Homo sapiens: one gene and its partners. The protein of the gene in region 1 purifies or fractionates together with the protein of each later gene. This does not show direct contact. Each region holds a gene or a part of one and is shown in the gene's direction. Other genes may lie near its edges.

Region 1 (3,155 bases):
ATTTTGTATTTTTAGTAGAGACGGGGTTTCTCCATGTTGGTCAGGCTGGTCTTGAACTCCTGACCTCAGGTGATCTGCCCGCCTTGGCCTCCCAAAGTGCTGGGATTACAGGTGTGAGCCACCGTGCCCAGCCTTTTCATTTGTTGTTTTTTTTTTTTTTTTTTTAACATAGACCTAATTTACTCTGGGTAGTTTTCGGCTTTTAAAATTTTATTCTGTGTTGCTTATTTCTACTGGAGGTGATCATTAAGAAAGGGGTAAAATATCAATGGGTTGCTCTGCTCTTTTTCTTAGTCCAGAAAAAACGGTAAAAATTTATTGCTAAAGATAGATTCTGTTAGTATCTTTTTTTCCCCTACCAGATTTATCTTTTTTTTTTTTTTTTTTTTTTTTTGAGACAGAGTCTCACTCTATCGCCCAGGCTGGAGTGCAGTGGTGCGATATCGACTCACTGCAACCTTTGTCTCCTGGGTTCAAGTGATTCTCTTGCCTCAGCCTCTTGAGTAGCTGGGATTACAGGTGCTTGCCACCACGCCCAGCTAATTTTTGTATTTTTAGTAGAAACATGGTTTCACCATGTTGGCCAGGCTGGTATTAAACTCCTGACCTCAAATGATCCATCCACCTCAGCCTCCCAAAGTGCTGGGATTACAGGCATGAGCCACTGTGCCCAGCCCCTACCAGATTTATTCTAAGTGGCCGAGTGCAGTGGCTCACGACTGTAGACCCAGCACTTTGAGGGGCTGAGATGGGAGGATTGCTTGAATCCAGGAGTTGGAGACCAGCCTGGGCAACATAGCAAGACCTCATCTCTACTAAAAATCACAAAAATTAGCTGGGCATGTGTCAGAAGTCCCAGCCACTTGGGAAGCTGAAGTGGGAGAATCACTTGAGCCTAGGAGGTCCAGGCTGCAGTGAGCCATTATCTCACCACTGCACTGTAGACTGGGTGACAGAGCAAGAACCTGTCTCAGAAAAAAAAAAAAAAAAAAAGATTTGTTCAAAGCCCTAGCAGGCAAGATGGTGCACTCAAACCATCTGGTTGAACCTGGGGAGGTTGAACCTGGGGAGGAGACTGGCTAGGCAAGGGCAGAAGCCCAGCAGGGCACCAGAATCCCCCACCCCGGGGTTGTGTGTCTCCAGCCCAGCAGGGGCCTTGGAAGCTCCATACCTCTCACTCTGTCACCCCAATCTCTGGCTCTTACAGATGCGACCTAAAGTCATGTGGCACCTCCTTCGAAGGTACATGGCATCCCGGCTCCATTCCCTGCGGATGGGTGGCTACCTGTTCTCTGGCTCCCAGGCCCCCCAGTTGTCCCCTGCTCTGTTGAGAGCCCTGGGCCAGAAGTGCCCCAACCTGAAGCGCCTCTGCCTGCACGTGGCCGACCTGAGCATGGTGCCCATCACCAGCCTGCCCAGCACCTTGAGGACCCTGGAGCTGCACAGCTGCGAGATCTCCATGGCCTGGCTCCACAAGCAGCAGGACCCCACCGTGCTGCCCCTGCTTGAATGCATCGTGCTGGACCGCGTCCCCGCCTTCCGTGACGAGCACCTGCAGGGCCTGACGCGCTTCCGGGCCTTGCGCTCGCTGGTGCTGGGTGGTACCTACCGTGTGACCGAGACAGGGCTGGATGCTGGCCTGCAGGAGCTCAGCTATCTGCAGAGGCTTGAGGTGCTGGGCTGCACCCTGTCTGCCGACAGCACCCTGCTGGCCATCAGCCGCCACCTCCGAGATGTGCGCAAGATCCGGCTGACCGTGAGGGGCCTCTCTGCCCCTGGCCTGGCTGTGCTGGAGGGAATGCCGGCCCTGGAGAGTCTGTGCCTGCAGGGTCCCCTCGTCACCCCAGAAATGCCCTCCCCCACTGAAATCCTCTCCTCCTGCCTCACTATGCCCAAGCTCAGAGTCCTTGAGCTGCAGGGGCTGGGGTGGGAGGGTCAGGAGGCGGAGAAGATCCTGTGTAAGGGGCTGCCCCACTGTATGGTCATCGTCAGGGCTTGCCCCAAAGAGTCTATGGACTGGTGGATGTAACTACTCCACCTGCCCTTGGGACCCATCCCAGTTTTCATCATTGAGCCCCAGACCCTCTGAGCAGCACCTTGAAGAGGGCAGATAATCAGACTTGAGGAAACTGAAAGCCCCAGGTTGAGAGAACAGAGGCCTAGGGACCTCCAGACCATTGGAATCACTGTTTGCCAGCTGTGTGGCCTTGGTCATATCATCAGCCTCTGGGAAGCCTAGTTCCCACATCTGGAAATAAGGATGATCATAGCTACCTCACGGTTACATTGCAAAGCCTTACTCTAAAAGCTCCCAGCCTCCAGAGGCTCTCAATGAAGAGTCACCTTCATGGTCGTCTTCAGGAACAGGACGGATGAAGAAGGGGTGGGGTTAAGACTCAGGGGCACCTGAGGGTCTGAGCCCCCTTATGAGTACCCAAGAAGGACTGTCTATGCATGCACACCCACAAGCCTATACACCATTTATATACCTACACGCACGCAAGAGACGCGGAGAGATAGGCGATGCAGACTCGCGATTCAATGATCGATATGCTCATAAAAGTGCTCAATTATATTTTCTGTATTTTGTATGCTGTATTTTCCAAGACGTATATTATTTTACTATTAAAGAAAAAAATCATTTTTTTTTCCCGAGAAGTATTCAGTTTATTCATTCAACCAATCTTTCTTGAGCTTCTGCTATTTTGCAGGCACTGTTCTAGGTTCTGGGAAACTGGGCCACCACAGTGAACAAAACTGACAAGACCCTGCCCTCGTAGATCTCATAGAGGAGAAGACAGGACAACAAACAGGTAAGCCAGTCCATGCTTTAGTTTTTTTGTGTGGGGACAGAGTCTCACTCTGTCACCCAGGCTGGAGTGCAGTGGTGCGATCTTGGCTCACTGCAACCTCCGTCTCCCGGGTTCAAGTGATTCTCCTGCCTCAGCCTCCCAAGTAGCTGGGATTACAGGCACCCGCCACCACGCCCAGCTAATTTTTGTATCTTTAGTAGAGATGGGGTTTCACCATGTTGGTCAGGCTGGTCTCAAACTCCTGACCTCGTGATCTGCTCACCTCGGCCTCCCAAAGTGCTGGAATTACAGGTGTGAGCCACTGCGCTCGGCCACCATGTTGTAATTTTGGAGACTCTGAGC
Region 2 (3,500 bases), on another chromosome or scaffold:
TCTTTGTAATCTGACCTTGTCCAGAGAGTGGATGTTGGAACTTTTGCTTTTCTTAAAGTGGTTTGAAAACAGCTATTCTGCAGTAAGTTATTTCAGAGACATAATGAAAAAATTTTGGTCTTACATGAAGTCAGATAGTGTAATAAACTGTTGATATAGAACCAAAAGATCCTGGCTTTAAGCTCTGGTTCTGATGCTGAGAAGCCCTGTGATCATGAACAAATGACTGTATTCTTTAGAACTTTTGTTTCTGTCATCTGTGAAAAAGAGATAATAATAGTTCTTCTACCTACAACACTCAATGTGTTACTTTTTTTTTTTTTTTTTAAAGGGTGGTAGTTTGATGCAAAAATTAGTATGTGGACTGTAGTGGCAGAAATCCTGGGTTTGAGTCCTGGTACCAGAGCTTGTTGGCTTTCTAATTTTATAAGTCATTTAAAACCTGAGGCTGGGCCTCAGGACTTTCTTATGTGAAATGGAGAAAATACCTTGTAAACTCTAAAGCACTCTGAAAATATTACTCTTCATGACTGTACAGTAGATCTCATGGGTAAGTCAGTAGATATAATTTTATTGTTTTTTCAGGTGCTTTGGGAAAAAGAACACGGTTCCAGGAAAATTATGTGGCACAACTGATTCTAGATGTAAGAAGGGAAGGGGATGTCCTTTCAAATTGTGAATTCACTCCAGCACCCACTCCTCAGGAACATTTAACCAAGGCAAGTAGGACATTAAGTTATTAAATTCAATTAACACCTGAGTCTAAGAATTTCAATAGCTGAGTACCATAGAAACACTGAATGGGTTGGGGACAGACTTCATTTTATTCTTTCTTTTGCCTTTTAAAGGTTGCTGAGTCAGGGAGAACTGGTGTTTAACTGGTGTTTTTTTTTCCTAACCTGTGATAGAAAAAACTGGTGTTTTTTTTTTCCTAACCTGTATATAGAGATAAATACTGTTTTTCTTCTAGGATTCAATAACTATGAATTAATGATGCAGTTAGTTATGTATTACCCCTCTTGAAGAAATACGAAAGGCAGACTGGGTGTAGACCAGTTTCTCTATCTGCTATCATATTTGTTTCCTTATGTTTGTCTTCTCTTGGAATCTCTTAGGCTTTTTCTAAATATATAAACATTATCAGAATTCCTTTTCACTAGTTTTGTGATCGGCCTTTTGTTTCTCTGTCATTATTGGGGGGGTGGTTGCCTTAGTATGTTTATTTGACATGTCTAGTGAATTCTCTTCTTTAGTTTGAATTATGACTCTTGGTCAGTTTACCTAATTATAGTCCACTCCAGCTGCTTCCATGAAGCCGTTTAGTATTTATGCATGTGTTTTCTGATCCCAGAAACCCCCAACTACTTTTTTTTTTTTTTTTTTTTGAGATGGAGTCTCACTCTATTGCCCAGGCTGGAGTGTAGTGGCGTAATCTCGGCTCAATGCATCCTCCGCCTCCTGGGTTTAAGCGATTCTCCTGCCTCAGCCTCCCGAGTAGCTGGGATTACAGGCATGCACCACCACGCCCGGCTAATTTTGTATTTTTGGTAGAGACAGGGTTTCTCCATGTTGGTCAGGCTGGTCTCGAACTCGCAACCTCAGGTGATCCACCCGTCTCGGCCTCCCAAAGTGCTGGGATTACAGGCGTGAGCCACCACACCTGGCTGTGTTTGTTGTTTTTTAATGTGGAGTTGTTCTATAGAAAAGTATCTCCCAGTGATTGACCTGGCATGGTGGCTCATGCCTGTAATCCCAGCACTTTGGGAGGCTGAAGTGGGTGGATCACTTGAGGTCAGGAGTTCGAGCCCAGTCTGACCAAAATGGTGAAACCCTGTCTCTATTAAAAATACAAAATTAGGCCAGGTGCAGTGGCTCACGCCTGTAATCCCAGCACTTTGGGAGGCCAAGGTGGGTGCACGAGGTCAGGAGATTGAGACCATCCTGGCTAACATGGTGAAACCCCGTCTCTATTAAAAATACAAAAAAAAAAAATTAACCGGGCGTGGTGGCGGGTGCCTGTAGTCCCAGCTACTCAGGAGGCTGAGGCAGGAGAATGGCGTGAATCTGGGAGACGGAGCTTGCAGTGAGCCGAGATCATGCCACTGCACTCCAGCCTGGGTGACAGAGCAAGACTCCGTCTCAAAAAAAAGAAAATAAACAAAAAAACAAAATTAGCCAGTTGTGGTGGTGTGTGCCTGTAATCCCAGCTACTTGGGAGGTTGAGGCAGGAGAATTGCTTGAACCCAGGAGGTGGAGGCTACAATGAGCAATGAGTGCAATTGCATCATTGAACTCCAGCCTGGGCAACAAGAGCAAAACTCCCTTTGAAAAAAAAAAAAAAGAAAAGAAAATTATCTCCTGGTGATAAATAGGATATGATGAGTATTATGAGAAATGTATGAAAATGATGTACCATTTAATACAGAATTTTAATCGTTTTTTTGCTTGTTCTTTCTTTTCTTTTCTCCTTTTCTTCTTTCTTCCCTTCCTCCCTCCCTCCCTCCCTCCCTCCCTTCCTTCCTTCCTTCCTTCCTTCCTTCCTTCCATTTTTAAATGGAGATGAGTTCTCACTATATTGCCCAGGTTTGTTTCAAACTCCTGGGCTCAAGCAATCTTCTTGCCTCAACCTCCCAAAGTGCTGGGATTCACCATGTAATACATGTTACAGGGTTAATGTGGTTAACATTTTTAATATATTACATGTGGCTATCAGAAATTTTTTCAGAATTATTTTATTTTAAAAATTTTGGCTGGGCGTGGTGGCTCACGCCTGTAATCCCAGCACTTTGGGAGGCCGAGGTGGACGGATCATGAGGTCAGGAGATGGAGACCATCCTGGCTAACACAGTGAAACCCCGTCTCTACTAAAAATACAAAGAATTAGCTGGGAGTGGTGGCAGGCGCCTGTAGTCCCAGCTACTCCGGAGTCTGTGGCAGGAGAATGGCGTGAACCCGGGAGGCGGAGCTTGCAGTGAGCTGAGATCGTGCCACTGCACTCCAGGCTGGGCGACAGAGTGAGACTCCATCTCAAAAAAAAAAATAAATCAATAAATAAAAAATAAATTTTACCTGTTTATCTATTTAGAGACCAGGTTATGAGACTGGCTAATTTTTGTATTTTTGGTAGAGATGGGGTTTCACCGTGTTGCCCAGGCTGGTCTCGAACTTCTGGGCTCAAGCCATCCACTTTCCTCAGCCTCCCAAAACTGTTGGGATTATAGGCATGAGCCACTGCACCGGCCAGAATTTAATCTTTTGTATGTGAAATAAAATACATTCAGATAATCTTATGGTCTTTGTTAATTACTACTTGAAGATGGAGAGTACAAGTTGTATGCTGTAGGTATGGATTAGATAGAAACATAGCTTTATTCTAATGGGTGGAAGAGAATTGTTAAGTTGGTTATATATCATATTACCTTGTGTTAAACACATTATTAGATTGTAATATACACCATCTGTTTAATAACCATTTTTCAGGAAAAGGAAAGGAACACTAC
Region 3 (4,172 bases), on another chromosome or scaffold:
AGAGGGGTTTCACCATGTTGGCCAGGCTGGTCTCAAACTGCTGACCTCAGGTGATCTACCTGCCTTGGCCTCCCAAAACGCTGGGATTATAGGCATGAGCTACCACACCTGGCCTAAGTACTGCTATCTTGAAGGAGGCAGACAGAAACCAAGCAGTCATGGGTGGCGGGTGGGCTGAGTCTCTGTAAGTTGCCCAGGGAAGATAGCTCTGACAAATAATTAGAAGTTGCCAGCCTTGTGTACAGCTGAGAAAAGAGCATTCCAGGCAGAAGAGACAGCAAGTGCAAAGACCCTGAGGCCAGAATGGCCACCAAAGTTGTTTGGTTCCGTGTCCTGAGCTACCAGCTTGGCAGATGGCTGGTGCCCAAAAAATGCTGGAGTGAGGGAATGCCCTTCTTTTGCCCTCCCTTCCTCCCAGTCTGTGTGTCTCTAGAAGGTTGCTGCTCCGCCCACAGTGGAGGACACGTGAAGAACTGGAGTCCTTTTCTGGGGCAGACTCCAATACTGGGACAGAGAAACTCTTCTGCCACGACCATGGAACTGGGAGGTCCCAGTGTCTTTCTTTCCCAACTGCTCTGAGAAAATCGGCCAGTGGCAGGTGGAAATGATATGGAGCCACAGAGCAGCAGGGCAGCAGAGAGGGAGAGCAATGGTAGGGTAGACAGTACAAGGCTCCAGAGAGCTCCTGGATAAAGCAGTGCCGGAAGCTGGCTCCCTCCAAACCTCCATTTACAAATTTTCTCTTCGTGCAAGTCAGTTTGAGTTGGGTTTGTCACTTGCGACTGAAGACGTCCTGACAAATGCCCCAAAGCTACCAGCTCAGAGATGCCCAGAGGCCTCTCCAAAGCTGCCTCCTCAGGTCCCCACTGGGGCCCTGTGTTGTCCTGTCCCTGGACGGCCTGAGCTTCTCGGTGGCCGTGCCAGCCTGGACAAGAGCAGGCCTTCCTTCCGAGAGGCCCGTGGCCACTCCCCCATTCAGCCCTTCTCTGACCCGACAGCCTAGTCGAGGAGCCGGGGCGCGGGCCTCAGACCCTCAGGGCCCACGAGAAGCCAGGGCCGGCTGACCAGGTTCGGCGTGGCCAGCGCCCAGTGGGAAGCACTGGCCGACCTAGCCGAGACTACATGGACGCTTCCAGCGAGTGTGGACGCGGCAGGCGGCCAAATCGCGCCGGGCCTCGGTCCCCATGGCTCGGGACATCACAGCGCTCAGTCTCCAACCTCCGCAGCTTCCGGCCAGACGCCGAGACCCATAACTCCCCGCGCGCGGCCTGGCCCCTCCCCTCCGCACGCCGGTCCCGCCCCTTGAGCCCAGTGCGCAGCCTCGGATTGGCCAGGGCGGCTTTCGCTCCTCTGGTGGGCGGGGTTGCGGGCCACACAGCGGACCCCTAAGCGGACCGCTGGCACCGGTCGGGTGGCAGCAGAGTGTCGCTCGACATGGGGGAGGCCGGGGCTGGCGCTGGCGCCTCGGGAGGGCCGGAGGCAAGCCCGGAGGCAGAGGTGGTGAAGCTGCTGCCCTTCCTGGCGCCGGGCGCGCGGGCGGACCTGCAGGCGGCGGCGGTGCGGCACGTGCTGGCGCTGACTGGCTGCGGACCCGGCCGCGCGCTGTTGGCGGGGCAGGCGGCGCTGCTGCAGGCGCTGATGGAGCTGGCGCCGGCCTCTGCCCCGGCCCGGGACGCCGCCCGCGCGCTCGTGAACTTGGCCGCCGACCCCGGCCTGCACGAGACATTGCTGGCGGCCGACCCCGGGCTGCCAGCGCGCCTGATGGGCCGCGCGTTGGACCCGCAGTGGCCCTGGGCCGAGGAGGCGGCCGCCGCGCTAGCCAACCTCAGTCGCGAGCCGGCGCCGTGTGCAGCGCTCATGGCGGCGCTGGCGGCCGCGGAGCCGGCAGACTCGGGCCTGGAGCGGCTGGTGCGCGCGCTGTGCACGCCCGGCTACAACGCCCGCGCGCCCCTGCACTACCTAGCGCCGCTGCTCTCCAACCTCAGCCAACGCCCTGCGGCGCGGGCCTTCCTACTGGACCCCGACAGGTGAAGCCCAGGGCGCCCGCGCGGGCGGGGAGGGGACGGAAGTTAGGGGGGACGGCCCTAAGTGACACCTCCCAACAGGTGCGTGGTCCAGCGGCTGCTGCCCCTTACCCAGTACCCCGACTCCTCTGTACGCAGGGGCGGGGTGGTGGGGACGCTGCGGAATTGCTGCTTCGAGCACCGTGAGTGGTGGGTGTGGCGGGGGTGCGTTGCCAGGTGTGGGGACTGGACTCCGGGGCTGCTCTGGACCAGTTTCCATTCCCGTCTCCCCACCCTCACCATCCCTCAGGACATCACGAGTGGTTGCTTGGACCTGAGGTGGACATTCTCCCCTTTTTGCTCCTGCCCTTGGCTGGGCCTGAGGATTTCTCCGAGGAAGAGATGGAACGTGAGTGGCTAGTGTGGAGCCTCAGAGTTGGCCGGAGAGGAGGGAGGCCAGTGGAGGGAGAGAGAGGTGTCCAGGCCACAGGCTCCTGAAACTTTGCAGCAGTGAGTTGCTGAGCACAGGTGGGACTTACACAGGCAGAGCCTGGCTCAGCTGCCCAGCCCAGGGACACAGTGGCTCCCACACACTCACCCCTAGGGCTGCCTGTCGACTTGCAGTACCTGCCACCAGACAAGCAGCGAGAACCTGATGCAGACATCCGCAAGATGCTTGTTGAAGCCATCATGCTGGTGAGCAGGAGCCCTGCTGCAATAAGCACCACCCCAACACACACACATGAGCATGCTGACATCTGGGTAACCTCTTCCACCTCCTCAGCTGACAGCCACAGCACCAGGTCGGCAGCAGGTGCGGGACCAGGGAGCCTACCTGATCCTTCGAGAGCTGCACAGCTGGGAGCCGGAGCCCGACGTGCGGACGGCTTGTGAGAAGCTCATCCAGGTTGGTGCAGGGTTGGAGAGGCTGGGGAAGGGGTGTCTGTAGCTGGCCAGCTGCTCACCTGCTTCCCGTCTGGCAGGTGCTTATTGGGGACGAGCCTGAACGTGGCATGGAAAACCTGCTGGAGGTGCAGGTGCCTGAGGATGTGGAGCAGCAGCTGCAGCAGCTGGATTGCAGGGAGCAGGAGCAGTTGGAGCGGGAGCTGGCCCCAGAGCCATGGGTGGAGAGGGCCACACCCACCTGAGGCCCCTGCAGCCGGACACCAGCTCCAGGGTCCCCTTTGCCAGGCTTTCTCAGACCAGGCCTTCCTGCAGCTGTCTGCAGGCCCCCTGGGTCCCCTTGTTCAGAGACTGTGCTCTTCTGAGAAGCAGAGCTACGCTTAGGCTCCAGTAAGGATTGGAGGCACTTTCCAGCCCTGTGCAGTGTTGCTACCAGCAAGAATGAAGGTTGTGCAGAGCAGTACTGTGAGGTAGGCACCGTGACTCGGCTGCCTGTGCAGAAGGTGGAGGTGGCAGGCGGATGGCCAGGGAGCCATGAGAAGACTCTTCCTGGGCACGGCGTGGGGACTGGACAGAAAACCACTGCAAGCCCCAAGGAGCCAGCTGAAGCCTCCCAATCCCCAGGGCACTGCAGAGTCTGGGCAGAGGTGGGCGCATAGGTACAAGTGCTGCTTTGTCAGCCTCACTCCCTGCAGCTCTCAGCTCCCTGTTCCCTGAGACCTGGCCTCAAAGGGCTGACCCAGCCATACGTAGATCCTGGGGTCTTTCTAGGACTGTGCCTCCCTGCTTGACCTATGCTCCAGGACCCTGCCCTCAACCCTTGTCAGCTCCCTAAGTCTTCCTGTTTCCCAGTCTCAGATTGAGTGGGTGCTCTCATTGGCCTCTCTAGCTAGGCCGTCTCCCTGGTCAGCTTCCTTGAGCCTGGGCCACTCCTCCCTGGCCTTCTTACCTCTGCCAAGAGCCTCCAGATGTGCCTGCAGCCTAGTCCCTGCCCAAGCTTCTCCCCCAGCCACCCTCTGCCCCTGTGGTAGAGCCCACTATAGGCCCAGGCGCCTTACGTGCTTCTCCCCTGGACCTATGTGCATCCCTCACCTGCCAGTTATGTGGCTGCCAAGCCCCACAGGCTGTCATGGTGGCTCTTGCCACACTTCCCTTCCTGAGCTGACCTGACCTCACTGCCACCTCTTGCATTGGGATCCTGAGGGCTGGCCCCTGCTCACTGATGGGCCCTCCCAGGCCCGTCAAGCCCTGGTGAAGGAGCTTAGC
Region 4 (3,500 bases), on another chromosome or scaffold:
CAGCCACTGATAGGAGCCATCGCTGCAGGTCTGGTGCCACCTTATGTCTATATACCTTTTTAGGGAGGCTTATTTTCTCATATTAATTGGAAATTAAGGATAGTGGCTAATTAAATACATTTACTTGGTGATTTGCCTTTGTTTACACCACCAGTGTACTGAGAATTCATACATACCATACATATTTTTAAATGGGCTGCTGAGGAGATTTGTGTGGCTATGTTTTGAAGCACCTGGGGAATGAACCTGTGGGAGTGTAAAGATGTGTGAGTCAGCAGGCCCAGGAGTTTGGAGTCAGGCATCCATGTTCTAATATGGTTTCAGTTGCTGGCTCTGGCTTCGGATGAACCATTTGATTCTGTCTGACCAGTTTCTTCATTCAAATAAAGACTATGAGAGTAATGCTAGCTTGGGTATATAGCAAATGCCAGGAGATTAATTTCTCACTTTGCAGGATCCAGATAGAGAGATGTATGTTGAAATGGCTCACTTGCCCAATAATTCCAGGGCAGAGAGGACAATCTAAGGGCAGAAGTGGGAGAAAAGCGATAGAAAGCTGGAGGAGTGGGAAAGGCTGCTGGAACCCATTGTCAGTGACCTGAAGATGAGGACAGCTAAGGAGTTAGCCTTAGAAGAGAAAGTGAGATGAGCTCTTATGCTAATTATGAGGATATGCAGCATTGAGAGCTGCAGAAATAATTGGGAGTACCTAGCCTGTTCTTCCCACTGAACATCATTTTGGTAGCTATTAAAGTTAAATATTAGATGATACTGTTCTACTTTTTACTTTATTTAGGAAATGCTGTGATTATAAAGCCTTCTGAACTGAGTGAAAATACAGCCAAGATCTTGGCAAAGCTTCTCCCTCAGTATTTAGACCAGGTAAGAATTTCTTGACTCATCTCCAACATATGTGTTTACTGTGGAAAACACACATTTTATTTTCTTGCTATTGCATGTTATTGCTGGCCGGGGACCCAATTGCAGTCTCTTTAAGCCTTCAACAGTTGGCTTAGCAAAAGAAGTTCGGTTCCAAAATACACGGAGTGTATTTTGTGTGGAGTCACCCAGCTCTTGGGGTTACACAATATATGTAGGCCCATGGCTTCATGCCAAACAGATTCTGTGTTTGTCTGGGATTTGGGGTTAATTTTTGAGCTAACATGATTTTAGGTGTTTTCATTTAATGGATTATTTAATGAGGGACTGGTACTGTGCTGGGTGCTGACATATTTCTGTTACTAACAATCTCTTTTGTTCTAACAAAATGTACTTTTCTGTGATTATATAAGAGTACTTTTTTTTTTTTTTTGAGATGGAATCTTGCTCTGTCACCCAGGCTGTAGTGCTGTGGTGTGATCTCGGCTCACTGCAACCTTTGCCTCCTGGGTGCAAGCGATTCTTCTGCCTCAGCCTCCCAAGTAGCTGGGATTACAGACGTGTGCCACCATGCCCAGCTAGTTTTTGTATTTTTGGTAGCGATGGGGTTTCACCGTGTTGGTCAGGCTGGTCTCGAGCTCCTGACCTCAGGTGATCCGCCCAGCTTGGCCTCCGAAAGTGCTGGGATTACAGGTGTGAGCCACCATGCCCATGTGTCTGGAATTGGTGGGTTCTCGGTCTCACTGACTTCAAGAATGAAGCCGCGGACCCTTGCAGTGAGTGTTACAGTTCTTAAAGATGGTGTGTCCGGAGTTTGTTTCTTCTGATGTTCGGACATGTTCGGAGTTTCTTCCTTCTGGTGGGTTCGTGGTCTTGCTGGCTTCAGGAGTGAAGCTGCAGACCTTCGTGGTGAGTGTTACAGCTCTTAAGGCGGCGCATCTGGAGTTGTTAGTTCCTCCTGTCTGGAGTTGTTCATTCCTCCCGGTGGGTTCGTGGTCTCGCTGGCCTCAGGAGTGAAGCTGCAGACCTTCGCAGTGAGTGTTACAGCTCATAACGGCAGTGCGGACCCAGAGTGAGCAGCAGCAGCAAGATTTATTGCAAAGACTGAAAGAACAAAGCTTCCACAGTGTCAAAGGGGACCCGAGCAGGTTGCCGCTGCTGGCTTGGGCAGCCTGCTTTTATTCCCTTATCTGGCCCCACCCGCATCCTGCTGATTGGTCCATTTTACAGAGAGCTGATTGGTCCGTTTTGACAGGGTGCTGATTGGTGCGTTTACAATCCCTGAGCTAGACACAGAATGCTGATTGGTGCATTTACAATCCTCTAGCTAGACATAAAAGTTCTCCAAGTCCCCACTAGATTAGCTAGACACAGAGCACTGATTGGTGCATTTACAAACCTTGAGCTAGACATAGAGTGCTGACTGGTGCTTTTACAATCCTCTAGCTAGACATAAAAGTTCTCCAAATCCCCACCAGATTAGCTAGATACAGAGTGCTGATTGGTGCATCCACAAACCCCAAGCTAGACACAGAGTGCTGATTGGTGCATATACAATCCTCCGGCTAGACATAAAAGTTCTCTAAGTCCCCACCCGACTCAGGAGCCCAGCTGGCTTTGCCTAGTGGATCCCACGCCGGGGCTGTGGGTGGAGCTGCCCATCAGTCCAGCGCTGCGCGCCTGCACCCCTCAGCCCTTGGGCGGTCGATGGGACTGGGCGCTGTGGAGCAGGGGGCGGCGCCCATCAGGGAGGCTCGGGCAGCATGGGAACCCACCAGGGGCGGGGTGGGGGCCTTGGGCATGGCGGGCTGCAGGTCCCGAGCCCTGCCCTGCGGGGAGGTGGCTGAGGCCCGGCGAGAATTCGAGTGTGGCGCTGGTGGGCTGGCATTGCTGGGGGACCCGGGGCACCCTCCTCAGCAGCTGGCCCAGGTGCTAAGCCCCTCATTGCCCAGGGCTGGCGGCGCCGGCCAGCTGCTCCGAGTGTGGGGCCCATTGAGCCTGCGCCCACCCAGAACTCGCTCTGGCTTGTGAGCGCCACGCGCAGCCCCGGTTCCTGCCTGCGCCTCTCCCTCCACACCTTCCCACAAGCAGAAGGAGCCGGCTCCAGCCTTGGCCAGCCCAGAGAGGGGCTCCCACAGTGCAGCTGTGGGCTGAAGGGCTCCTCAAGCGTGGCGAGAGTGGGTGCCAAGGCCAAGGAGGTGCTGAGAGCGAGCAAGGGTTGCCCGCACGCTCTCACCTCTCACCCAGCCTATAAGAGTACTTCTGCTTTCAAAAAAGACATGTCTGTGGCATGAAAACATGCCACACATACACAAAAAGTGCCCTCCTGAACTAGAGGGCAGATCCTCACACTGACTTAACATGCTGGCATTTAAGAATATCAAGAACTGAATAAAGAAAATGATCTGCCCAACTGCGGGTAGTTCATCTGTCTGAGTCAGAGGTTCTTATGCCTTCCTGGGGAGGAAGTTATGATGCCGCGAAGAAATTGGCACTGCTGAGTTCTACATGCAGTTGCTACAGGGAGGAGTCTTCATTTAGCTTTAAGCGAAATACAGCTTAAAAATATCTTACCTGTATTCTGTACATCAACTTGTGATGGATTGAGGCCAGTTCTGGTT
Region 5 (3,168 bases), on another chromosome or scaffold:
ATTGTTAGGGCTACTTGTAGCCCCTAAATTTTCCAGAAACTGAAAGTGAGATGAGATGGGCTCCTTTTCCAGCTCCATCACTCCCTGAGTCTCTGAGAAGCTTGAGAATGAGAGCCTGGTCTGTAGCTGTCCAGTAAACATCTGCTAGCTTATCTGCCCCTAAATGTGCCCAAAGGGAGGAGGGCCAGATGTGTTAATGAACATTTACTTGTTCTTCTTTATATGAATACAAGCTCTTGGTCCCTCCTTTCTTATTCAAGGAAGGAGATTGTACAGCAGACCTCACGAACTATCTGCAGTCTCATATGGTATCCATCTGTGCCTAAGGAAGACTGCTTGTGATTAAGACTTTTGACCTAAATAGTAGGTCTCTGCCCATGTCTGCAGTATAATCATCTTTCCTCGTTTGGCATTTTGAATGTGTAGCTTTTTTTGTTTTTTTTGCATGACATTTTTTTTGACGTTACATTGGATGTGTAGTTAACTTTTCCTGGTTGGTTGTACTCGTAGGATCTCTATGACGCTGGAGTGAAGAGGAAAGGAACTGATGTTCCCAAGTGGATCAGCATCATGACCGAGCGGAGCGTGCCCCACCTCCAGAAAGGTGGGCACTGTGCTGAGGGAGTCTCAGTGCCTTGGGGCCCTGGCTGGGGCGGCTGGGTGGATGTCCATGTTGGGATGGAGTCTGCCAGAATGAGGTTCTGTCTCCGCTTGGCACTCTCATAGGCTCACCCATTTTCCCTCACCTTTCTCTCCCATTCTGGATTCTTTTCTCTTGCAAATAGTTTCTGCATTTGGTGCTTTATTCTGCAGCTCCTTCTTGTTTGATGATCATTTGGTCTTGCCATTATTTGTTGAAGTAGTGGACTTTGGTGCATGCTCTGTACTGTTTCCTATGGTTTTCGGATGGAATGGGTTCCACTCAGGGGAGATAGAGATGGTCCAAATATGTGGCCTGGGCAGTGCCATTCAGGACAGGTGGTATGGCTGTTCCACGACAAACTTGGCCAATGTTGGCTCTGGTCACCGTGGTAACCTCTAAGCTCCTAGGATGCTGTGATCATCCTCAATTTTTAAAAAAATTATGGTGCATAAAACTAGGTGGGTGATCGTTGACAGCTTTGACTAGTGGCTCGGATCTGATAACTCTTTGTTGTTTTTCCTCAGTATTTGATAGGTACAAGAGTTACAGCCCTTATGACATGTTGGAAAGCATCAGGAAAGAGGTTAAAGGAGACCTGGAAAATGCTTTCCTGAACCTGGGTAAGTGAATGTGGCCCCCATTCCTGGTAGACATCAGCTACCAGAGCAGAAGTGACAGATGGCCATCCTGTTAATCCAAATGTGTTTGGGAGGTGTGGCTTCTATGCATGCTTTGGATAGTTTTACAGTCTTAATTGTATAGATTTCAGAATATAAAACTGAAGAAAGGCCTAACTTGGTAACAGATTGTTGCCAGGGAGGAGTAAGAGAACAGGAGGAGAGAGGGGTGTGTTGTGGAAACTCACGTATGCACTTGGGTTCTGCAGGCCTCAGAGACCCCTGGTTTAAAACCGTGGTGGAACTTAGTATTGCAGAGGATTTCTAGATTTCCCTTAGCCTGTCCTATTTTGCAGCCCTTTTCCATTGCATTAGGTCACTTCTGGTTTGTGGCCCAGGGCCAGGGCATCCTCTCTCATTGGTAGAGGAGAGACCAGAGCAGCTGCAGCGCTGACTCCCTTTCTTCTCTCCACAGTTCAGTGCATTCAGAACAAGCCCCTGTATTTTGCTGATCGGCTGTATGACTCCATGAAGGTAAGGGCAGCTGGCTGAGAGAGCTGTGTTTCCACACTCAGCTTTTCTTCTTTTGGGTCCCAAATTGAGTCTCCTTGATTCATGGATGGAGGAAGGGGACCCCACTGTGTGGATGCAGGAACACACTAGTCAGCTGTGGTTGTATGTGACAGCTGAGAGAACCACAAATCTGTCTTCTTTCTCTCAGCTGCTTGAACATGTATTTGCGTACAGACAAAAAGTAAAGTGCCATGGGAGAGAGAAAATGCGACATGGTAGTCGTGTCTGATCCCTGCTTAGGTTTCTCCGTGATTTCTTCCTGTTACTGCCAGAGTCAAGACAAGCGAGGAAGGGAGCGATTATTAAGCACCCACTATACAGTGGACAAGTGCTACTATTTTACCTTAAATCATTGCATAACAACCTCTGAGGCTTATGATTATCTTCTTTATAAATGCAGAGATGGAGCTCAGAATACCTCAGCCTGCTTGAAGTTACACAGACAGATTTGAACCTGGGTCTATCAGACCCCAAAGACAGCCCCACAACCCTTCCCTAAACGAACCACCTCTTCCCGTAGACCCATCCCATTTTCTACACCTCAAGTGTGCCATGTGTTTTCTGGCTTCTAGGCTTTTGCATTTTCCTTCTGGAACATCTCCCTTGTCTGTGCTGCCTCTGCCATCTGTCTTTGAGTTCCATATCAAATAGCACCCCTTGGTGCCTTCGCTCTGATGCTCTGGAAGTAAACTCAGTGGTCTTTATTGCACATATCATTAGAAATGGCACAGAGCGATGATAGAAATGTGTTGGCATGTTCCCTCTAAGCCTGCAAGAGTCAGGAACCTCTTGTTACATATGGAGACTCAGACTGCTTGAACTGAGCCTTGCAGTAGTAGGTGCTCAGTATATATTTATTGAATGGTGGCATAGAGTGGGAGTCTGTGCTGACTACAGCCTGGTGTGTTTGGAATTCCCAGATGCTCTTCTTTCTTTTCTTTTCTTGTCTTGTCTTTTTTTTTCTTTCTTTTTTCCTCCCTCCCTCCCTGCCTTCCCCTGCCTCCCTGCCTTCCCCTCCCTCCCTGCCTTCCCCTCCCTCCCTGCCTTCCCCTCCCTCCCTGCCTTCCCCTCCCTCCCTGCCTTCCCCTGCCTCCCTGCCTTCCCCTCCCTCCCTGCCTTCCCCTGCCTCCCTGCCTTCCCCTCCCTCCCTGCCTTCCCCTGCCTCCCTGCCTTCCCCTCCCTCCCTGCCTTCCCCTGCCTCCCTGCCTTCCCCTGCCTCCCTGCCTTCCCCTGCCTCCCTGCCTTCCCCTGCCTCCCTGCCTTCTCCTGCCTCCTTGCCTTCCCCTGCCTCCCTGCCTTCACCTCCCTCCCTTTCCTTCCCCTCCCTCCCTTTCC
Region 6 (3,500 bases), on another chromosome or scaffold:
AACTTTTCCAGGATCATGTAGCTAGTATGTCTCGAGCATACATGTACATATCAAGTATACACATGTCTATATGTGGTATGCATGTATTAGTATACAGCAAATATGCAGGTATCTAGTATACATTGTACAGGCAAAGGAAAGCATCCCCTTAGCCCTCTGAAGGTTCACTGAAAAATCAACTCACAAAAGGAGGTTAGTAGGAGAAATGGCATACAAATTGATTAGCCTGCAGCGTGGGGTCGGGAACCACAGAGTGTTCACCCCAGCCCCACAATGGGTACAGAAGCCTATATACCATCCTGAGGTTACAGGAAGAATGGGGGCTCGAACATGGCCAAAACCAGTTTCTGGTGGTAAATCAGGTTATAGTGGCAAGACAGACTATGGAAGGGGGAGAAAAGGGGGCCTGGGTAGCAAAGGCAGTCTTGTTATGTAGATGAAACCTCACAGGTAGCAGCCCTCAGAGGGAATAGATGGTAATTGTTTCGTTCAGACCTTTAAAGGGTGTCAGGCTCTCAGTCTGACAAGGGAAGGCCTTAGAGAAAGCCTGGCTACATCAATGCAGATTTTCTCTACAGATGCAAATCTCCCCCACAAAAGACAGTATTACAGGGCTACTTCTGTTTGCAGACCCTCTGAACAGCTATCTCAAAATATGTTGAAGAAGTATATTTCAGGGTGAAATACTTTGATTTCCTTCAATACCTAGATACATGTATCTAGTATATCTGTAGCATACATGTATCTAGAGGTACACATGCATCTAGTATGTATCTAGTATATGTGATTTAGTATACATGCATCTACTATGTATCTGGTATACCTGACCTAGTATACATCTAGTATGTATCTAATTTACATGATTTAGTCTATGTGTATCTAGTATGTATCTGGGATGTAGAATCCTGCATCTAGGAAGGTAGGGGTAAGGATGGAGCTCAGGTCCGGGGGATTCCAAAGCAGGTACTCACCGTGCCCCTCCCCCACAGCTGTGGCAATTTGGGGAGTGGGTGGACGTGGTCGTGGATGACCTGCTGCCCATCAAGGACGGGAAGCTAGTGTTCGTGCACTCTGCCGAAGGCAACGAGTTCTGGAGCGCCCTGCTTGAGAAGGCCTATGCCAAGTGAGTAGCGGCTGAGGGGGCAACTCCAGCTTCCAGCTCCCCCTAGGGGTGGGGGCTCATGACTGTCTTCTCAGAGGGTCCTGCTTGATGCCAGAGTGCTGACCTGGAGCTGCCCACAGGGTAAATGGCAGCTACGAGGCCCTGTCAGGGGGCAGCACCTCAGAGGGCTTTGAGGACTTCACAGGCGGGGTTACCGAGTGGTACGAGTTGCGCAAGGCTCCCAGTGACCTCTACCAGATCATCCTCAAGGCGCTGGAGCGGGGCTCCCTGCTGGGCTGCTCCATAGACGTGAGTGTGCCCGGCCCCGATGCTTTGGTACCCTGGAACCCTGGTATCCTGACCTGTCACATTTTCTAAAATCCCCACCCAGGCTCCGCTCCAGACCCTGTCCTGCACTTAAGCTTCATCTCTGGATGCATACCCTGCCTCATCCATCACTTCCACCCCCCATGCCTGGTGTCGCTCCTGTCCTCACCTACCCACTCCTCCCCCAAAACTTCACACCTCAGCTCTTTCCTGTGCTTGTTTTCCCGTCTACCATGCTGTTTCCCTCATTCCTGTCATCTCAATCCATGCCATCCTCTGTCCAGTTCACCAGCCTCAGATTTCATCTCCTGGTCTCAGTTCCCACCCATCCCTAGCCTCAATCCCACACTCACTCCATTCCCACCCTTCCCTGCTCCTCTGTTCCCACACTCAACTCCGCTCCCCAGTCCTCAACGCCAGACTTGACCCCAGTATCACTGCCATCCGCAGCTCTAACCCCAGCTCCCATTCCCATTTCTAACTGACTCTTCTGTCCTCACGTCCTTCTCCGTGAGGCCCACTGAGGGCTGTGTGGCTCTGGTGGGCTGTGCACGGCTGTGTGTGTGCACATGCATGTTCGCACAGGTTCTGGTCAGCCCTGGCCAGTAGCAGTGTCAGCGGAGTGCCTGGGCTCCCCTGTCCCAGTGGCAGCATTGGTGGGGTACCCAGGCTACCCCTCTCCAAAAGAGCAGCATCTATATGTGGGGGTGTCTATAGGTGGGATCGGGGTCCCTGCTTGCTTCTCCTAGCAACTGTTGTATGTGCAAGTGGGAACGTCCAAGACCCTGAGTGCTGGGGGCTCATCTGATAGGGCGGGGGGACCTAGCCACTGACCACAGTGTGTGCCTCTTTCTGCAGATCTCCAGCGTTCTAGACATGGAGGCCATCACTTTCAAGAAGTTGGTGAAGGGCCATGCCTACTCTGTGACCGGGGCCAAGCAGGTACTGCCCTGGGTGGGGCCTTCCCTGAAGGGCGGTTCCTGCCCCCTGGCCTGTCCTTGCCTCTCTGGCACCTGACCAGGGCTGTGGAAGGTGCTGGCTCCTCCTTTCCCCTCCTGCAGCACCTTATCTCTCTTCTGGGGACACCCATCTGAGATGCCTATCATGTCCTGCCCTGACTGACTGTAGTTCATGTGTGCAGCTGCCTGCCTGGGCTGTGAATTCCAAGAGGACAGGCTTCATCTGGGTGCTGAGCAGGGCTTGGAGAGGATGAGGGTATGGGAGGCGGAGTGTTAAAGTGCGTGCATGGGCCAGGTGCACTGGCTCACACCTGTAATCCCAACACTTTGGGAGGCTGAGGTGGGCAGATCACCTGAGGTCAGGAGTTCGAGACCAGCCTGGCCAACATGGTGAAACTCTGTCTCTACTAAAAATACAAAAACTACCTGGGTGTGGTGGCAGGTGCCTGTAATTCCAGCTATTTGGGAGGCTGAGGCAAGAGAATTGAATTGCTTGAACCCAGGAGGCGGAGGTTGCAGTGAGCTGAGATCGCACCACTGCACTCCAGCCTGGGTGACAGAGCAAGACTCTGTCTCAAAAAAGAAAAAAAAAAAAAGTGCCTGCTGGAAGCTAGCACTGACAGGAGCTCTGGCAAATAGGTGAACTACCGAGGCCAGGTGGTGAGCCTGATCCGGATGCGGAACCCCTGGGGCGAGGTGGAGTGGACGGGAGCCTGGAGCGACAGGTGAGGGGCAGTGGGCACTGTCTGGAGTGCCTTGGGGAAACTGTTAGGTGCCCCGACATTTCTGCTCGGGACTCTACCAGGCCAGGCTGGACTCAGGATTGAGCAGAGGGGCCCATCTTCGCGCGACTGGGTCTGGGGGACTGCTCTGACAAAGCTCAGGCCGTGCGGGCCCCTGTGCCCAGCCGTCGGGTGTGTGCAGGGCATCAGACTGGCCCTGATGAGACCACCCCCTAGAAGCGGAACCTTGGCGCTTGACCTTGAGGAGGCCACCTGGGCTGGGCCGGGGGAAGACAGGCCAGGGTAGACAGGCCCCAGGGACAGAGGCCAGGCAGGTCAGTGCCCACCAGCCCTGGCAGAGCCCTGCTCCTCACAGCTCCTCAGAGTGGA
Region 7 (3,500 bases), on another chromosome or scaffold:
CTTCTCACCTCCTTGCTTTGTTATACACTAAGCCTTGTTTGCCATAGGCCATTGTGAATATGTGTGATGTGGGGAGAGGAGGATAGACTGACAGCGACCTCTTGAATGAAGTCTGGAAAACTGTCACCACAACCGTCGACTTTGATGGGCTCCCAGCATCACAGACTCACAAGGCATTGAATTCAACCCCTCTATTTTATATGGTAACACTGAGGCCTAGATAAGGGAAGAAACCTACCCTACAGTCCAAATTTAAGCCCAATTGTCTTGAAGCCCACACTGCCTCTTTCTATCACATTGCTGGGCCTCTCACAGAAGGCATTGGGTTTAAACATATCACAGATTCTACAAGTTAGTTCAGCATCATAAAGGGGGACACTCTTTCCTCTCCCCCTGCCAAAAAAAAAAAATCTACAAGGAAAAATCTCCTTAGGGAAATTGAATTGGTTTTCCTGCCTGAGTATCCAACTGATTGGCTCCAATCTATCCTAAGCACCTGGGCTGATGGGTTTTGTTCTGGGGCAGAAGGAAGCCTCACTGCCTCTCACCCTAGCTGCCTTTGGGGGTGGGTGGAGGAAATCTGCTCTTTTCAGGAAAGGAAAAAAAGAGTCGGGTTTAACCTTGGGGTGGAGCAGCATTAGAGGAGGCTTCCTTTCCAGAGCTGATACTCTCCCACGTTCTCATACTGACCAGCTAGTGGCAACAAAAGATTAACTATAGTGAGAGAGAGAGAGCTGGTTTTTCTTTCCTTGCAATGGAGCAGACAGCCTCTCTGCCCCCAGAAAGAGGCAGGCAGCAATGCTCAATGAGAGTTGTTCTATTTTCTAGCACTTGTTCTCTCCTTTCACTGGCTTTTCTCTACTGACTATAGCTCTTTTGGACAATAGCCCCCCAAAAGAACTCCCTTTTGAATGGAAAAGGAGTGGGTGATGACTACACAATGCAAGATTCAAAACTGAAATATGTGTAGCTTTCTTACTAGCATACTGGAATATGTAAGCATCCAAGTCTGTGAGTTGAAATTTGACAAGCATGTTGTAGGTTACAAACTATGAAGGGAAACTACTTCTTCATCCCCAGCACTGCAGTCACTGTCAAGGTCAGGCCTCAACACTTCTCTCTACTACAATTACAACAGTCAACGCACTGATCTGTCTACCTCTAGTCTTATCCCCTCTAATCCATCCTCCGTACTTGCAGACAAAGTGATTTTATTAAAAGCCCAAATCTGATAATGGCCATCCTCTTGTAAAGCACTTCACTGCTTCCCCATTGTTCTGAAGGTGTTGAATTTCCCTCTCCCTATTGTAGTAGTACAAGGTCCCTGATCACACTCTGCCAGATTGTCCTTTACTAAGAACCCTTCCTTCTTATTTGGCACCTCTACCTCACCATCCCCTGGGGAAATTCCTTCTTGCTTTTCAAGACCGAATTCAGGTGTCAACTTATTTTTGAAGCCTTTTCTGACCCCTCTGCACCAGAGTTGAACACTCTGAGCCTTGGTGCCCACTATCAATAAAGACTGCTATAATCATAGCCAGGCCCTTTGAATCACTGAGCACCAGTGATGTGAGAGTCACTGTTCTATGTGCCTAGGATACATCAGAGAACAAAAGACAAAGATCTCTGCATTCAGAGAGCTTTTATCCCTCTGTGTTGTGTGTGTGTGTGTGTGTGTGTGTGTGTGTGTGTGTGTGTGTTAGGGGACAATGACAACAGACATAATAAGTAAATAAGTTATGTAGTATGTGAGAAGATGAAAAATTCTATGGAAAAGGGAAAAAACTAAGGGAAAAGAGAATCGAGAGTTCTGAGATAAGGAGACGGGTTTTAATATTAAATAGGATAGAATGAGAAGAGCTTATTGAGAATGTGAGATTGGAACAAAGGCTAAAAGAAGGGGAAGGAGTTAGCCAAGCAGCATCTAGGAAAAGCACATTCCAGGCGGAGAACAGCTCCTAGCTAGATAATCCTAGCTGATTATCTAGCTTAGGAGCACACCTGGACCTTTCAAGGGACAGCATGAAGGTCGGTGTGGCTGGAATGCAGTGAACAAGTGGTGGTGGAGGAGGGGGGTGGCAGGACAAGACGTCAGAGAAGAAAAGAACAGTCATGTAGGGCTGTACAGACTACTGTCAGGATTTGGGCTTTGACTCTGAGTGAAATCAAGAGCTCTGTAGAATTTTAAGCAAAACAGTGCCAAGGTCTGACTTATGTTTCAAAAGAATTCCCTACGCTGCTCTGTACAGGACCAACGATGGGTGCAGGAAAGCCTGAAGGAGTCTCTACTGATGAAAAGTAATGGTGGCTTGGAGCAGAGTGAGACCAGAATTTACGCTGTGTGTTTCCTCATGTGTCTCACGCTGTTTGCCTATGTACCCTGTGAGCAGCTAATGTACCTCCTTCATCTCTGGGGCTGTGGTGACTCACCCTTTACTTGGCACATTGTAGGTGTACAGGAGATCTTAGAGAACTAGAACTCTGTGTTTGCTAAGTGTCATCCCAGAATCCACAGTAGACAAAACTTGAGATGGGCTGAATTTGCACTACCCTGTTAAGAGTGAGCCTAAACACTATCCATCCCACAGAGCCTTCCCTCTTCTAAGCACCCATAGCCATTGCTGCTACCTTCTCCTGTCTCCTGATTATTTTGGGGTGATTGCAGGATGGCTAATGAGAACAATGTGATTAGAGGAAAGATCATTGTGTTTGGAGAAGACTCTGTCTTGAGCAGCTTGGAAACCAGGTAAATGATTAGAAACTTTGCATTGTAGCAAACGAAGAGACAATACAAGTTTCAGGGAAATGATACACCATGGTTCCAGGATTATCAAATATCAGAAATGGAAAAATTTAGGACATTATCTAACTGAAACACTTCTATATAAAGATGGGGAAATCAAGGTCACCAAGCCTGTGGTAAAGCAGATGCCAGATCCCAGATCTACTGACCCCTATGTGTTTTCCTTCCATCTTAGGGAAGGGCAGCTGGGAAACTGGGGACAGGAGGAGTTGGAATTCCAGAGTTGTAATGTAACTGGACTTTATCATCCTACATAGGATAGGCTATGAAAACCGTGACCATTTTATGTAACATGTACTATGTCCCAGGTGCCATGATGGTACATTTGTTATCTATTCTTTCTACAGTGCTGAAGGACAGATGTAGCTCATCCCATGTTATAGGGTGAGTTCTGAGGCTCAGAGGAGTGAAGGAACCTACCCAAGATCACACAGCTATTATACAGCTAAGCTCAGTCCAAATCCAGGTCTGCCTGGTTCCATAGTCTATGTTCTGTCTGCCTTGCATGCTGCATAGAACAAGAGATGCTCTCAACTTTTCATCTCTAGACTTTTTTACTTCTTATGTCATCCTCTTCTCATGACCAAGAAGCTGCAGGCGTTTCTTATATAGGAACTTCAGGTGTGACAGCCTCACAGGCCCAAGGGACTGAGCACCTTGTTCTGTGCTGCCAGGAGCTGACTTAGCAGCTCCCCAG

The links.
Region 2: the proteins of FBXL12 (region 1) and TTC27 purify together in Homo sapiens (affinity purification with mass spectrometry, with the first as the bait; one study listed by BioGRID). This does not show direct contact.
Region 3: the proteins of FBXL12 (region 1) and HGH1 purify together in Homo sapiens (affinity purification with mass spectrometry, with the first as the bait; one study listed by BioGRID). This does not show direct contact.
Region 4: the proteins of FBXL12 (region 1) and ALDH3A2 purify together in Homo sapiens (affinity purification with western blotting; one study listed by BioGRID). This does not show direct contact.
Region 5: the proteins of FBXL12 (region 1) and ANXA2 purify together in Homo sapiens (affinity purification with mass spectrometry, with the first as the bait; one study listed by BioGRID). This does not show direct contact.
Region 6: the proteins of FBXL12 (region 1) and CAPN1 purify together in Homo sapiens (affinity purification with mass spectrometry, with the first as the bait; one study listed by BioGRID). This does not show direct contact.
Region 7: the proteins of FBXL12 (region 1) and ASTN2 purify together in Homo sapiens (affinity purification with mass spectrometry, with the first as the bait; one study listed by BioGRID). This does not show direct contact.

Annotation. Positions count from the first base shown.
Region 1 is NC_000019.10:9,809,770-9,812,924, reverse strand, and holds the end of FBXL12 (F-box/LRR-repeat protein 12), read left to right. Parts: intron 1-1,207; coding exon 1,208-2,029; 3' UTR 2,030-2,655; downstream 2,656-3,155. UniProt on the Homo sapiens protein: Substrate-recognition component of the SCF (SKP1-CUL1-F-box protein)-type E3 ubiquitin ligase complex.
Region 2 is NC_000002.12:32,666,050-32,669,549, forward strand, and holds part of TTC27 (tetratricopeptide repeat protein 27), read left to right. Parts: intron 1-585; coding exon 586-719; intron 720-3,500.
Region 3 is NC_000008.11:144,136,402-144,140,573, forward strand, and holds the start of HGH1 (protein HGH1 homolog), read left to right. Parts: upstream 1-1,372; 5' UTR 1,373-1,434; coding exon 1,435-2,027; intron 2,028-2,105; coding exon 2,106-2,206; intron 2,207-2,313; coding exon 2,314-2,412; intron 2,413-2,607; coding exon 2,608-2,699; intron 2,700-2,787; coding exon 2,788-2,910; intron 2,911-2,986; coding exon 2,987-3,151; 3' UTR 3,152-4,172.
Region 4 is NC_000017.11:19,651,751-19,655,250, forward strand, and holds part of ALDH3A2 (aldehyde dehydrogenase family 3 member A2), read left to right. Parts: coding exon 1-28; intron 29-796; coding exon 797-882; intron 883-3,500.
Region 5 is NC_000015.10:60,349,819-60,352,986, reverse strand, and holds part of ANXA2 (annexin A2), read left to right. Parts: intron 1-510; coding exon 511-604; intron 605-1,167; coding exon 1,168-1,263; intron 1,264-1,735; coding exon 1,736-1,794; intron 1,795-3,168. UniProt on the Homo sapiens protein: Calcium-regulated membrane-binding protein whose affinity for calcium is greatly enhanced by anionic phospholipids. It binds two calcium ions with high affinity. May be involved in heat-stress response.
Region 6 is NC_000011.10:65,184,928-65,188,427, forward strand, and holds part of CAPN1 (calpain-1 catalytic subunit), read left to right. Parts: intron 1-989; coding exon 990-1,123; intron 1,124-1,242; coding exon 1,243-1,411; intron 1,412-2,287; coding exon 2,288-2,371; intron 2,372-3,027; coding exon 3,028-3,113; intron 3,114-3,486; coding exon 3,487-3,500. UniProt on the Homo sapiens protein: Calcium-regulated non-lysosomal thiol-protease which catalyzes limited proteolysis of substrates involved in cytoskeletal remodeling and signal transduction. Proteolytically cleaves CTBP1 at 'Asn-375', 'Gly-387' and 'His-409'.
Region 7 is NC_000009.12:117,405,058-117,408,557, reverse strand, and holds part of ASTN2 (astrotactin-2 isoform g precursor), read left to right. Parts: intron 1-3,500. UniProt on the Homo sapiens protein: Mediates recycling of the neuronal cell adhesion molecule ASTN1 to the anterior pole of the cell membrane in migrating neurons. Promotes ASTN1 internalization and intracellular transport of endocytosed ASTN1.